Linked DNA regions of Homo sapiens. The protein of the gene in region 2 purifies or fractionates together with the protein of the main gene of each other region. This does not show direct contact. Each region holds a gene or a part of one and is shown on either strand. Other genes may lie near its edges.

Region 1 (2,690 bases), on a different chromosome or scaffold from region 2:
TAGGGGATTATGTAGACTAAAAGCCTAGAAGTTCTGCCCACATCCTTATGACGCAGCCAATCTGGAGCTTCATGTTTCCTTCTAAAAGTAGTAACCGGGTAGAAGTGGGTGACCCATTGAGGACACATGATGTGAGGTATTTCTGCCGGATTCTAGGTTAGCAAAGACTCAAATGGGTGACTCATGAATGAAGGGAGAACAGGCACAGGACTTAATGAAAAGAGTTTCTTGAACTTAGTTTTCTGAATGGGGGTGGGGAGTTGGGGCACGTGTGTGTAAGGGGAGGCTGCCTCACTTTGAAGGAATGGTGTTGGCTAACAGGATCCATGAAATTCCTAGGTCAGTTGAATAATAACTGAACTACTGGTTTGACTGTGGATTATTTCCTGGGTATTAGTGGGACCCAACAGCACATTGCTATTAATAGTATGGAAATAATGGTCCCTCTGTTTCATTGAATTGCTGAAGTAATGATAATGCCATGAACCAGGAGAAGATGGTTGTGGGGGTTTCTAGGAAGCAGCTGCTGTGACAGGCCAATCCCAGGCTTGCCCCCGAGCCCTCCTGTCCTTCTGGGTTTGTGTTTGCCTTGCCTGGTGCTTCCTCCCTCATTGTGTTGTTGAATAGACCTAGGCAGCCTTGTATCCATAGAAAGCCTCCACTGCTGGGCCGGGGAGGGGGTTGTGGTAAGGGCCCTCTGGAAATCAAGCAGAGAATGCCTTTGCAGTGGTCTCCCGGGCATTGGGCAGGGCCTAGCCTTTTGCAGCCCCCAGAGGACCTTGCCTGCATAAAGCACTCAGAAGGGTTAGCCACCTGGTGATTTTGTCTCTAGTGAAACTGTGTTTGCCGATAATCATCCACATAGCCACCTCTGTCCTCGCAGTTTGGATGCCTTTTTTTGACACCTGCGCTAGGTTCTTGTATGCTGGCTTTTCTTAAAGGAACAGCAGAGTAGAAAAGAGGTTGAGAATGTTTTCTAGCAGGCAGAATGTGCATACATGTTTTCATGAGTGTCCTTTGGGTGCTGTTTCTTTTAAATCCTCTGTGCACAGGGCTCTGGCCTTTAGTAAACTGTTTTTCTGTCTTACGTCATGCTGACTGGGTGCTAGGGGCTGATTACAAAGGGGAAGAGTTGAACAGACATCAGGGGCCGATGAAACCAAAGGACTAGGAGTCAGGAGAACAAGTCAGGGATTAGGAGACAGCGGTTTGGTTTATTGTTATCCAGCTGGAGGACTCCTAGGGGCAGCAGCAGGAGGAATACCAGGGCCACGGAGGGGCCAGGAGTCTCACAGTGGAGGGCAGACTCTAACAGATGCCAGCTGAACGCTCGCTGGCCCTGGATGTCATACGAGTTGGGGACCAGAAATCTGGGCTCAGAGAACCCGTCCAGGGAGATTTGAAGCCATGGGTTATCTTCTAGAGTTGATACTGATAATATATTTTAATTTTTATTGATGTTTAATACCTTCTGAAACAGGAGGGTAAGATCAGATGGGAAGCCCCTCTGTTGAAGGATCTTGGGAACCTTGGTGGTTTTTTTTTTTTTTTTGGTTTTTTTTTTTTGATCGAGCTGTGGACATCCTTCTTAATTCGATTCTGAGGATTTGTTTAACTAAAAAGTTCCCAAACACAGAAAGGGCCTCCCCACCTGCTTTGGGGAGCTGTCTGTGCTGGGAGTGCCAGGCATCCCATGGGACCCATCACTGCCAGTGTCTGTGCCTCCCAGAGGTCAGCCGTGTCTGCCCTGGCTCTGTCTCCTCTGTGACAGGGCAGAGCATTTCTGGTCAGTTTCTCCATGGTGCCTCCCACCCCTTTGTAAAGTGGATGGACATGATGGAATTCAGTTGTCTCACCCTGATAGCCTGGGTGTTGATATTCACTTTACCCGCACTCAGACACAGGCGACCTTGAAGCAGTTCTCGGTGTGTAGAGTCCACGTGACAGTCCCCACAGCCTCCCCAGATAGCTGTGTGCCTGTGCGCTACTGCTGTGCCATTTTCCCAACTTGGCGTTTCACTAAATGCAGCTGATCTCTCTCTCTGTGCACTCGTGATCCATGTTGAACAATACATGTAGGTTCTTTTTCCACGCAATGTAAGAACATGATATACTGTACGTTGGAAAGCATTTACCTTATTTATATACCTGAATGTTCCTACTACACAAATAAACATATATTAAATTCTAGATCATGTGTGGTTTTCGATGGTGGGGGTGGCGGAAGGCCAGGGGTGTGGACGTTTGGTTGCTTATGTGGAGCCAGCATTATTTCCCAGGATGCTGCTGACCACCGCTTGCTTCTAGAGACTCCCTCTGTCCTTGGCCTTGGCAACCTGCCCCCCCGGCTTTCCTCCTGCCCTTGGTTGCTCCTCCTCGGTCTTCTTTCTGGGTGTCTCTTTTCTGGGCCATCCCTTGGGTGGTGGCATTCTGCCTGAGGCTCTCTTTCGCCCACTGAATTCTCCCCTCTAGGTGTTCCCACCCCCTCCCAGGATCCTGATCACCACACTCATTTCAACACTTCCCAAGTCCATGTCTCTAGCCCAAGTGGGCCTGCATTTCCAGCTGCCTGTGAGGCCTCTCACACAGACTTTGCATGATAAAACCCAAACCTATGACCCATGTCCTGAGTCCTGTGTTCTCTAACTACCCATGTGTTCTGTCACACAAGCCAGTAACTGGAGTGATCT
Region 2 (5,584 bases):
TGCACCCATCAACTCGTCATTTACATTAGATATTTCTCCTAATGTTATCCCTACCCCAGCCCCTGACTCCCCACCTACCAGCCCTGGTATGTGATGTTCCTCACCCTGTGTCCATGTGTTCTCATTGTTCAGCTCCCACCTATGAGTGAAAACATGCGGTGTTTGGTTTTCTGACCTTGTGATAGTTTGCTTAGAATGATGGTTTCCATCTTCATCTATGTCCCTGCAAACGTGGATGTCCTTTATTTCTTTATATTATCTGATTGCTGTAGCTAGGACTTCCAGTACTGTCTTGAATAACAGTGGTGAAAGTGGCCATCCTTTTTCTAGATCTTGAAGGAAAGGCTTTCAGTTTTTCCCCATTCAATATGATACTAGCTGTGGGTCTATCGTATATAACTTTTTTTTTTTTTTTTTGAGACAGAGCCTTGCTCTGTTGTTCTGGCTGGCGTGCAGTGGTGCCATCTTGGCTCACTGTAACCTCTCCCTCCCAGGTTCAAGCAATTCTCATGCTTCAGCCTCCCAAGCAGCTGGGACTACAGGCATGCACCACCATACCAAGGCTAATTTTTTGTATTTTTAGTAGAGGCAAGGTTTTGCCGTGTTGGCCAGGCTGGTCTCAAACTCCTGGACTCAAGTGACCCGCCCCCTCAGCCTCCCAAAGTGCTGGGATTACAGGCATGAGCCACCTTGCCCAGCCATATATGGCTTTTATTATGCTGGGATATGTTCCTTCTGTGCCCAGTTTTTTGAGGATTTTTATCATGAAGGGATGTTGAATTTTATCAAGTGCTTTCTCAGCATTAATTGAAATGATTATATGATTTTTGTTCTTTATTCTGTTGATATAATTTATCACATTGATTGATTCACACATGTTGAACCATCCTTGCATCCCTGGGATAAATCCCACTTGGTCATGATGAATGACTGTTTTAATGTATTGTTGAATTTGCTTTACTAGTATTTTGTTGAGGATTTTTGCATCAGTATTCATTAGAGATATTGGCCTGTAGTTTTCTTTCTTTGATGCGTCTTTGTTAGTTTTGGTATCAGAGTAATACTGGCCTCATAGAGTGAGTTCGGAAGTATTCTCTCCTCTATTTTTGGGAACAGTTTGAATAGGATTAGAATGCTTCCTTAAATGTTTGGTAGAATTCAGCCATCAGGTCCTGGGCTTTTCTTTTCTTTATTTTATTTTATTTTATTTTTTAAGACACAGTCTCACACTGTCGCCCAGCCTGGAGTACAGTGGCGCGATCTTGGCTCACTGCAAGCTCCACCTTCTGAGTTCACGCCATTCTCCTTCCTCAGCCTCCCAAGTAGCTGGGACTACAGGTGCCCGCCACAATGCCCGGCTAATTTTTTGCATTTTTAGTAGAGACAGGGGTTTCACTGTGTTAGTCAGGATGGTCTTGATCTCCTGACCTCGTGATCCGCCTGTCTCGGCCTCCCAAAGTGCTGGGATTACAGGCATGAGCCACCACGAGGTCCTGGGCTTTTCTTTATGGGGAGGAAAAGAACTTTAGAATTCAGTAAAGTTGCAGGATACAAAATCAACATACAAAAATCAGTAGTATTTTATTATGACTTTGATCTTGTTACTTGTTATTGGTCTGTCTAGGTTTCAAATTTCTTCATGGATCAATCTTGGTGTTTTATATGTGTCTAGGAATTTATCCATTTCCTTTGGATTTTCCAATTTATTGGCATATAGTTGCTCATAGTAGCCGCAAATGATCCTTTGAATTTCTGTGGTATCAGTTGTAATGTCTCCTTTTTCATCTCTAATTTTATTTTATTATTTATTTATTTTTTTGAGATGTGGTCTGTCACCTAGGCTGGAGTGCAGTGGTGCAGTCGTGATGCACTGCAACCTCTGTCTCCCCTGGCTCAAGCAATCCTCCCACCTCAGCCTCCCAGGTAGCTGGGACCACAGGCATGCACCACCACACCTGGCTAATTTTTTATATTTTTGGTAGAGATGAGGTTTCACCATGTTGCCCAGGCTGGTCTCAAACTCCTGAGCTCAAGTGCCTGCCTCACCCTCCCAAAGTGCTAGGATTATAGGCATGAGCTACCTTGTCCAGCTGCCTCTGATTTTATTTATTTGGATCTTCTCTCTTTTTTCTTTTTTTTTTTTTTAGTATTTATTGATCATTCTTGGGTGTTTCTCGGAGAGGGGGATTTGGCAGGGTCATAGGACAATAGTGGAGGGAAGGTCCTCTCTTTTTCTTAGTCTGACTAAAGGTTTGTCAACTTTGTGTATCTTTTAAAAAAACCCAACTTTTTGTTTGAGTGACCTTATGTATTTTCATTTCAATTTCATTTATTTCTGCTCTAATCTTTATTATTTATTTTCTTCTACTAAGTTTTTTTTTTTTCCTTTTAAACAGAGTCTTGCTCTGTCATGCAGGCCGGAGCACAGGGACATGATTATAGTTCACTACAGCCTCAACCTCCTGGTGCCCAAGTGATCTTTCTACCTCAGACTCCTGAGTAGCTGGGACTACAGGTGTGCACCACCACGCCTGGCTAAGTTTTGTATTTTTTATAGCGATGAGGTTTTGCCATGTTGCCAAGGCTGGTCTCAAATTACTGGGCTCAAGCAATCTGCCGGCCTCAGCCTCTCAAATTGCTGGCCTCTTCTACTAATTTTGGGTTTGGTTTGCTCTTGCTTTTCTAATTCTTTAAGATGTGTTATTAGGTTACGTATTTGAAGTTTTTCCTCTTTTTTTGATGTAGGCATTTATAGCCGTAAGTTTCTGTCTTAGTACTGCTTTCACTGTATCTCATAGCTTTTGGTGTGTTGTGTTTCCATTATCATTTGTTTCATGAAATTTCTCAATTTCCTTAATTTCTTCATTGACCTATTGGTCATTCAGGAGCATATTGCTTAATTTCCATGTGTTTGTATAGTTTCCAAAATTCTTCTTGTTATTGATTTCTAGTTTACTTGTGGTCAGAGAAGATACTTGGTATCATTTCAGGGTTTTTGTTTTTTTTTTTTTGAGACAGGGTCTTGCTCTGTCTGAAGTGCAGTGGCATGATCTCGGCTCACTGCAACTTCCACCTCCTGGGTTCAAGCGATTTTCCTGCCTCAGCCTCCCAAGTAGCTGGGACTACAGGTGCACGCCACCATGCCCAGCTAATTTTTGCATTTTCAGTAGAGATGGGGTTTCGCCATGTTTGCCAGGCTGATCTCAAACTCCTGACCTCAGGTGATCTGCCCACCTCAGCCTCCCAAAGGGTTGGGATTACAGGCGTGAGCCACCGCACCCAACCTTTTTAATGTTTTAAGACTTGTTTTGTGACTTAACATGTGTTCTATCCTTGAGAATCATCCATGTGATGAGAAGAATATGTATTCTGCAGCAGTTGGATGAAATGTTCTGTAAATATCTATTAGGTCCATTTGTTCTATATTGCAGATTAACTCCAATGTTTCTTTGTTGATTTTCTGTCTGCACGATCTGTCCAATGCTGAAAGTGGGGTGTTGAAGTCTCCAGCTATTATTGTATTGAGGTCTCTCTCTTTCCCTGTAATGTTTAATTTATATATCTGGGTGCACCAGCACTGGGTACATATTTATTTATAGTTGTTATAGCCTCTTGAAGAATTGACCCTTTTATTATTATATAATGACCTTTTTTGTCTCTTCTTACAGTTTTTGTCTTGAAATCTATTTTGTCTGATATTAGTATAACTACTTTTGTCCTTGTTTGGTTTTCATTGGCGTGGAATATCTTTGTCCATCCCTTTATTATTTTTGGTCTATGTGTCTCTTTATAGGTGAAGTGTGTTTCTTGTAGGAAACAGATTCACTGGGTCTTGCTTTTTAATCCATTCAGCCAGTCTGTGTCTTTGGATTGGAGAATTTAGTCTGTTTACATTCAATGTTATCAATAAGTAAGGACTTCTGCCATTTTGTTACTTGTTTTCTGGTTGTTTTGTGGTCTTCTCTTCCTTTTTACCTTCCTTCTTGTCTTTTGGTAAAGATGATTTTCTCTTGTGGCATATTTAATTTCTTGCTTTGTGTGTGTGTGTATCTGTTGTATGTTTTTTGACTTGAGGTTACCATGAGGCTTGCAAATACTGTCTTATAACCCACTATTTTAAACTGATGACAACAAAGATTGCATAAACATGCAAAAAAGAAAACTAATAAAAACTCTACACTTTAACTTTATCTCTCTGCTTTTTAACTTTTTGTTGTTTCTCTTTACATCTATTGTACTGTCTACGTCTTGAAAATTTATTTTTGATTGGCTTATCATTTAGTCTTTCTACATAAGAGCAGTTTACACACCACAATTATAGTGTTATAATATTCTATGTTTTTCTATGTGCTTACTATCACCAGTGAGTTTTGTACCTTTAGATGACTTTTTTTTTTTTTAGATGGAGTCTTGCTCTGGCACCAGGCTGGAGTGCAGTGGCGCCATCTTGGCTCACTGCAACCTCCGCCTCCCGGGTTCAAGCGATTCTCCTGCCTCAGCCTCCCAAGTAGCTGGGACTTCAGGCGGCCGCCACTATGCCCGGCTAATTTTTGTAGTTTTTGTAGAGACGGGGTTTCACTATATTGGCCAGGCTGGTTTTGAACTCCTGACCTTGTGATCTGCCCGCCTCAGCCTCCCAAAGTGCTGGGATTACAGGTGTGAGCCACCGCACCTGGACTCCTTTAGATTATTTTTCATTGCTGATTAATGTTCTTTTCTTTCAGATTGAAGAACTCCCTCTAGCATTTCTTGTAGAAAAGGTCTGGTGTTGATGAAATCCCTCAACTTTTATTTGTCTGGGAAACTATTTCTCCTTCATGCTTGAAGGATATTTGCACCAGCTATACTACTCTAGGGTAAATTTTTTTTTTCCCCCTTGGCACTTTAAATATGTCTTGCCACTATCTCCTGGCTTGTAAGGTTTCCACTGAAAAGTCTACTGGCAGACATATGGGAGCTCCATTATATGTTATTTGTTTCTTTTCTCTTGCTGCTTTTAGGATCCTTTCTTTATCCTTGATCTTTGGGAGTTTGATTATTAAATGCCTTGAAGTAGTCTTCTTTGGGTTAAACCTGCTTGGTGTTCTATAGCCTTCTTGTACTTGAACGTTGATCTCTTTCTCTAGGTTTGGGAAGTTCTCATATTATTTCTTTGAATAAACTTTCTACCTCTATCTCTTTCACTATCTCCTCTTTAAGGCCAATAACTCTGAGATTTGCCCTTTTGAGGCTGTTTCTAGATTTTTTAGACATACATTATTTCTTTTTTTTTTTTTTTTTTTTTTTGAGACGGAGTCTCCCTCTGTCACCAGGCTGGGGTGCAGTGGCGCGATCTCAGCTCACTGCAATCTCCGCCTCCCAGGTTCAAGCGATTCTCCTGCCTCAGCCTCCTGAGTAGCTGGGATTACAGGCACACACCACCATGCCCAGCTACTTTTTGTATTATTATTATTTTTTTTGAGACAGAGTCTTGCTCTATCGCCCGAGCTGGAGTGCAGTGGCGCCATCTCGGCTCACTGCAAGCTCCGCCTCCCAGGTTCACACCATTCTCCTGCCTCAGCCTCCCGAATAGCTGGGACTACAG
Region 3 (3,500 bases), about 94 Mb from region 2:
CAAAATAATAGGGGGAATAAGTGTATACAACTCTCCCTTGAGAGTGACTGTACATTAAAAATACAGTTAATTTCTAAAAATATTTTTTAACTTTAGGATTATGGATAACATATACTAAGATTCTCATGGAAGTTAGGAATATTTTAAATACATCCAGATATTTAATAATGTTCAGATGCTTTTAATTACAGAACCTCATAGAAATTCTTTCTCAGGGAGATTCTTCAAGCAATCACTATGTCAACAGACACAGGTGTTTCCCTTCCTTCATATGAGGAAGATCAGGGATCAAAACTCATTCGAAAAGCTAAAGAGGCACCATTCGTACCCGTTGGTAAGTTTGACTGACATTTTAGTAGTCTTGAATATGGTAGAGCCGTGATAATTTGTTCATTTAGCAATATCCTGAAAGAATGTATTTTCCATTTTTTTCTTATGTTGAAATATGCTGAGATTGGCATGATATAAATCTCATCATAAAGATTCTTCTGTATGTATTCAGACTTTTTTTTTCTTTTTGGAGACAGGGTCTCTTTCACCTAGACTGAAGTGCAGTGGCTTGATCATAGCTCACTGCCCCCATCCCTCGACCTCTCAGGTTCTTGATCCTCCCACCTCAGCCTCCTAAGTAGCTGGGACCACAGGTGTGCACCACCACGCCCAGCGAATTTTTGTAGTTTTGTATAGACACGGGGTTTTGCGATACTGCCTAGGCTAGTCTTGAACTCCTGGGCTCAAGCAATCCGCCTGCCCTCAGCCTAGTGCTAGGATTATAGGCGTGAGCTGCCACTCCAGCTGAGACTTCTTATTTTATTGAGTCTTATTTCAGTGCATAATGTTGTATTGGGGGACCCCAAGACCATCCTCAGGTTAGATGATTGGGCCAAGACTCATAAGACTCAAAAATGCTTGTTACAGTCATAGTTTATTACAGCAATGGGATATAGGTTAAAGTCAACAAAGACATATAGAATGAAGTGTAGGATAAACCAGACACAAAATTCTAGGTGTCCCCTTCCCAGGGAGTCCCACAGGGGGAGAGGGGGTGCATTTAATTCTTCAGTACTGATGTGATATGTGGCAATACATGCTAAGTCTTGCCATCTAGGGAAGCCCACCAAGCCTTGGTAACCAGGTTTTATTGAGGTGTCAGCTGTGACTGAAATTAGCTATTCAGTCTCCTATCCCCCAGAGGTCGGACTCGCAGGCATATTAAAATTCATTTAATATGCAGTTAAAACAGATGAAAGGTGAAATTTATAGTATATAAATTAATCTTAAGAAAAAGTTTAAAAATTTTTAATCTTACAGAGAATTTTAAAATTACCTTTAATGCCACCATTTAGATATAACTGTTGTTACCATTTTGATGTACATATTTCTCCAGTTGTTTTTTCTTTTTTTATCTTCACAAATTCAGGATCATACTAAGATGCATATATGTATTATAATTTTTATCTCATGTTTTTAACTATGTTATTCGAAACTCGACTTTTTTTTTTTTTTCCGAGAAGGAGTTTCACTCTTGTTGCCCAGGCTGGAGTGCAGTGGCGCGATATCGGCTCACTGCAACCTCCACCTCTTGGGTTCAAGCGATTCTTCTGCCTCAGCCTCCTGAGTAGCTAGAATTATAGGTGCCCGCCGCCACGCCAGCTAATTTCTTTGTATTTTTAGTAGAGATGGGGGTTTCATCATGTTGGCCAGGCTGGTCTCGAACTCCTGATCTCAGGTGATCCACCTGCCTCGGCCTCCCAAAGTGCTGGGATTACAGGTGTGAGCCACCGTGCCTGGCCTAAAACTCTACTTTTTTTTTTTTTGAAACGGAGTCTTGCTCTGTCGCCCAGGCTGGAGTGCAGTGGCAGGATCTTGGCTCACTGCAAGCTCCGCCTCCCGAGTTCACGCCATTCTCCTGCCTCAGCCTCCCGAGTAGCTGGGACTACAGGTGCTCGCCACCACGCCTGGCTAATTTTTTCTATCTTTTAGTAGAGACAGGGTTTCACCGTGTTAGCCAGGATGATCTCGATCTCCTGATCTTGTGATCCGCCCGCCTCGGCCTCCCAAAGTGCTGGAATTATAGGCGTGAGCCACCGCGCCCGGCCAAAACTCCACTTTTAAGAATGACTTAATTTATATGATATAAATTACTGTTGTATATAACATTATTATAATCCTCTTGGTAGAAATTTATGTGATTTCTAATTTTTCATTATTAACAATTAAACTACTGAGCATCCTTTTAGATGGCTCTCCAAGAAGTTAAAGGACTTTGAAGTCTCTTGAAGGAATTTTTCTTCTGACCATATAATTAATAAGTTAGTTGCAAAAGTACATAAAACAGAAAGGTACCATGTCCTATGATCCCGACTCTGAAAGACAACAGCAGTCTGCACAGTCTGTCAGTGTTTTCTTCTCTGTGTACTACCATAAACTATTATTTATAATTATTTTTAGATGAAATATTTTTCTTTAGCCTTGTTCATTATCTTTTTATAACAATGCATATAGGAACATTTATATTTTTAATAATTGAATCATTAATTTTGTAGATATACAATGTTTTGTAACAGTGATCTATAAAATTTTTTGGTTGTATATTCCCTCAGTAAAAAATAATTTGAGCACGTACTTCCTGCCAGTGTGTTGTGTGTTTACCTATTTTTAAGTCATTTATGACTTTTAAGTCATTTAAGTCATTATGAAATACGCAGAAAGACATTTCAAAAGGATAAGATACAAATATAAAATTTTCTGCTCTTTAATGGGTTGTCATTTATACATATCCCTTCTTGGGAGTACATAAACCCTACATTGATTTAACCATTGCTGTATTGACGACATAGGAGTTGTTCCCATTATGTTGATTTTACAAACTGTTGGAAGACTGTGTGTGTAAAAATTAAATATCCTTATATACTTAATTGTACCAAAACAATGATTTACACCAATAGGCTGTGATGGGCTGGTTTTCCCATACTCTCAGTAGCACTAGATATTATCATTCTTTGAGCATCTTTTCATATGTATTGGTCATTCAGGCTTCTCTTCTGTGAATTAGCTTTTTTGTTTTTGCTTTTGTTTCTGTTTTAACTAGGATGTCTTTTTCTAATTAAATTATAATTATGTATTTTAGGTATTAATGTTTTCTTAATATGTTGCAAGGCCTTCATGATCCTGGGATTACTTAGGTTCCTGTATTTCCTTATGTTGTGCATTTATCATTGAGATACTAATCTATCTGGAATTTATTTGTAGGTATGACATGAGGCAAAATCTAACTTATTTTCCGTATGGATACTTTAATTTTCTATCACAGTGATTTGGGTATCTGTTTTGCATTCTTTTTCCACTTATTTGAAATGTGAACTATGTCATATACTAAACATATGAGAGATTTGTTACTCAACTACTGTATGTATTTTGTTGCTTTGATCTGTCTGCCAGAAACTTAGTGGTATGTTTAGATACCTCATAAGCCAGTACACTTTCACTATTCTACCTTC
Region 4 (3,500 bases), on a different chromosome or scaffold from region 2:
CTTAGCTGTGACAATGTCTTAGTCTTTTTTTTTTGAGATGGAGTCTCGCTTTGTGGCCCAGGCTGGAGTGCAGTGGCACGATCTCGGCTCACTGCAAGCTCTGCCTCCCGGGTTCACGCCATTCTCCTGCCTCAGCCTCCCGAGTAGCTGGGACTACAGGCGCCCGCTGTGACAATGTCTTAGTCTTTTTTTTTTTTTTTTTTTGAGATGGAGTCTCGCTCTGTGGCCCAGGCTGGAGTGCAGTGGCACGATCTCGGCTCACTGCAAGCTCTGCCTCCCGGGTTCACGCCATTCTCCTGCCTCAGCCTCCCGAGTAGCAGGGACTACAGGCGCCCGCCACCACGCCTGGCTAATTTTTTGTATTTTTAGTAGAGACAGGGTTTCACTGTGTTCGCCAGGATGGTCTCAATCTCCTGACCTCATGATCCGCCCGCCTCGGCCTCCCAAAGTGCTGGGATTACAGGCGTGAGCCACCGCGGCCGGTGACAATGTCGACAATGTCTTAGTCTTACCTTGATTTTCATGACCTTGAACAAGTTTGAGGACTGGTCAGTTATTTTGTAGTATGCCCCCAATTTGGGTTTGTCTGATGTTTTCCTTATTATTAGACTGGGGTTGTGAGTTTTTGGGAAAAATACACAGAGGTGAGGTGCTCTTCTTTTTTTTTTTTTTGAGATGGAGTTTCGCTCTTGTTGCCCATGCTCGCGTGCAATGGTGCGATTTCAGCTCACTGCAACCTTTGCCTCCTGGGTTCAAGCAATTCTGTCTCAGCCTCCCGAGTAGCTGGGACTACAGGTGCATGCCACCATGCCTGGCTAATTTTTGTATTTTTAGTAGAGACAGGGTTTCACCATATTGGTCAGGCTGGTCTTGAACTCCTGACCTCAGGTGATCCGCCCGCCTCAGCCTCCCAAAGTGCTGGGATTACAGGCGTGAGCCACCACGCCTGGCCAAGCTACCCTTCTTACCACATCATAGCAGAGAGTACATGCTGTCCACATGAAATCACTGGTAATGTTAATCTTGGTCACTCAGTTAAGGAGGCATTTGCCAAGTTTCTCCTCTGTAAAGTTACTTTTTTCTCTTTTCCTATTTTATTTTTTGGAAGTGAGTACTAAATATAGCCATGTCCAGCTAATTTTTTTCACTTTTGGTGGAGATGAGGGTCTCACTTTGTTGTCTAGGCTGGTCTCAAACTCCTGGCCTCAAGCTACACTCCTGCCTTGGCCTCCCAAAGTGCTGGGATTACAGGCATGAGCCATTGTTCTGGCCCCTCCCTATCCTATTTATTTATTCATTAGTTTATATCAGTATAGACTCAAATATATTTATTTTATTTATCTTATACTTTGTTTATACCTTGTTTCAGCTTTGGCTATTGGGCATTCTTTTAGGTTGGCCTCTGTCCTTTGGGCGTGTCCTTCCTTTTTTCTTTTTTTCTTTTCTTTTTTTTCTATTATGTCATCTCCTACCGAAAGGACTTTGGTTTCTTAAGCCCTTTTGTACTTCTTTTCACTATAAGATGCTTCAAGATTTTCTTGTATTTTCCTTGCCCTGACTCTAGAATCAACCAATTCTCCAAGGAATCCTGTTATTAGAGAATGGTATTATAAAGCAGGATCTGGGTGCTGCATGTACCTCCTGCTGTTGGAGTATTATAAATTCTAGGCCTTCTCGGTGGACAGAGCTATTACAGATAATATATTAATATATGTATGTATGCCACAGACCTGGTTTTAAATTTTAGCAACTGTTTATGAGCTGTGGGATTTTTGGTAAGTTATTTACCCTAAGTGCTGGCAATTCCATTTGTAAAAGGAGAATAGTAATATTTGCCTTTTAGGGCAGTAGTAAGGATCAAAAATAATGTAACTTAATGTGTTTACAAATAACATTGTTATAACTGTAATTTAACCACTTTTTTTTTGTTTTGTTTTGTTAGGCATAACCAGTTCTGCGTTATGAAGTTTGTAGAGGTGAATGGGTGTGTGTGTGTGTGTGTGTGTGTGTGTGCGTGTGTGTGTTTGTGTGTGTGTTTATAGGCATCTGAAGGGCAGAAAATAGTCTGTAGGAAAAATATTTTAAAATATTTTTATTTTAAACTCAGTGGGCTATTGAGAATGAAGAAATGATTCACTGTTCTTTTTGTAGTCCAAGTTCAGCTGAAAAAGTGAAAGCTAATAAAGATGTAGCTTCACCATTGAAGGAACTGGGTTTAAGAATCAGCAAGTTTTTGGTGAGTAAAAATTAGCACTCGCTCAATTTATTACTTGCAGTGTGGATGTGCGTGGTTATATTGCTAGTGATAGTGAAAATTCAGTTTCTTTTTGTTTTGGGGATTAAATTGTTTTATAAATACCCAGGTTGCAACTCTTCTCCCTAAAAGTTACAAGTCAAAGTTGCCTGATCCATTCACTGCATATCATAGGGTTTTCTTCACCAGACATGTGGTGGTCTTTAAGGTGACTAAGTTTGTCATTTTGGAAGCTCACATCATGCCTACTGCTGTATTAATGTGCTTAGTGAATAAGCATCGTTGTTTCTGGCATGTACATTTAATTGTAATAAAAATTGTATGTCAGTGACTGGCTCTTGTCTTCTATTAGAGTCAGAATTGTTATGTTTTATGAATCTTTGAGAAGCATTTTTGTTTATTCAAGTCCTGTGTTCATTGTAGAAGACAAATCTTTAAATTCTCTGCATCCTGTGTGCGATTTCTGAGCTGTTCCTTACTTAAAATCTCTGTGTTTCAGGGTCTTGATGAAGAACAGAGTGTGCAGTTACTCCAGTGTTACCTGCAAGAGGACTACAGGGGTACTCGGGACTCAGTAAAGGTTTGTGGTTTATGTCAGCTCCTTTCTTCTGCCTTTATCCTTTTTCCCTGTTGGTTTTAGATAATGTAGGATTTTGGCACCAATTCTTTTATCGGTGGTAGGTGATCAGGTACCGTCATCTTCAGGGAAGACCTACTAAAGGCTTTAAAAAAAACATGACCTGGGTGCAATGGCTTGTGCCTGTACTCCCAGCTTCTTGGGAGGCTGAGGCAGGAGGATCACTTGAGTCCAGGAGTTTGAGGCTGCAGTGAACTGTGATCGCACTACTGCACTCCAGCCTAGGCAAAAGAGTGAGACCCTATCTCTTTAAAAAGTAAAGAATATATATGCATATAAGCTGAGATCTGTCTTCATACTTGGAGGAGTGGAGAGGTCAAAGACTGACATGTTAATCATAGAATCTTGGGCTATTAGAGGTGATAAGGATTTGGTAGAGTTTCTTTTTTTTTTGAGATGGAGTTTCGCTCTGTCTCCCAGGCTGGAGTGCAATGGCGTGATCTTGGCTCACTGGAAGCTCTGTCTCCCGGGTTCACGCCATTCTCCTGCCTCAGCCTCCCAAGTAGCTGGGACTATAGGCGCCTGCCACCACGCCCGGCTAATTTTTTGTGTTTTTAGTAGAGACAGGATTTCACCGTGTTAGCCAGGATGGTCTCAATCTCCTGACCT

What was found.
Region 1: the proteins of SLC35G2 (region 2) and CDS2 purify together in Homo sapiens (affinity purification with mass spectrometry; one large-scale study listed by BioGRID and IntAct). This does not show direct contact.
Region 3: the proteins of SLC35G2 (region 2) and HIGD1A purify together in Homo sapiens (affinity purification with mass spectrometry; one large-scale study listed by BioGRID and IntAct). This does not show direct contact.
Region 4: the proteins of SLC35G2 (region 2) and NUP188 purify together in Homo sapiens (affinity purification with mass spectrometry; one large-scale study listed by BioGRID and IntAct). This does not show direct contact.

The regions. Positions count from the first base shown.
Region 1 is NC_000020.11:5,195,698-5,198,387, forward strand, and holds the end of CDS2 (phosphatidate cytidylyltransferase 2), read left to right. Parts: 3' UTR 1-2,190; downstream 2,191-2,690. UniProt on the Homo sapiens protein: Catalyzes the conversion of phosphatidic acid (PA) to CDP-diacylglycerol (CDP-DAG), an essential intermediate in the synthesis of phosphatidylglycerol, cardiolipin and phosphatidylinositol.
Region 2 is NC_000003.12:136,824,842-136,830,425, forward strand, and holds part of SLC35G2 (solute carrier family 35 member G2), read left to right. Parts: intron 1-5,584.
Region 3 is NC_000003.12:42,790,991-42,794,490, reverse strand, and holds part of HIGD1A (HIG1 domain family member 1A, mitochondrial), read left to right. Parts: intron 1-191; exon of another isoform or gene 192-215; coding exon of another isoform or gene 216-237; coding exon 238-334; intron 335-3,500. UniProt on the Homo sapiens protein: Proposed subunit of cytochrome c oxidase (COX, complex IV), which is the terminal component of the mitochondrial respiratory chain that catalyzes the reduction of oxygen to water. May play a role in the assembly of respiratory supercomplexes.
Region 4 is NC_000009.12:128,954,199-128,957,698, forward strand, and holds part of NUP188 (nucleoporin NUP188), read left to right. Parts: intron 1-2,151; coding exon 2,152-2,236; intron 2,237-2,753; coding exon 2,754-2,834; intron 2,835-3,500. UniProt on the Homo sapiens protein: Component of the nuclear pore complex (NPC), a complex required for the trafficking across the nuclear envelope. Required for proper protein transport into the nucleus.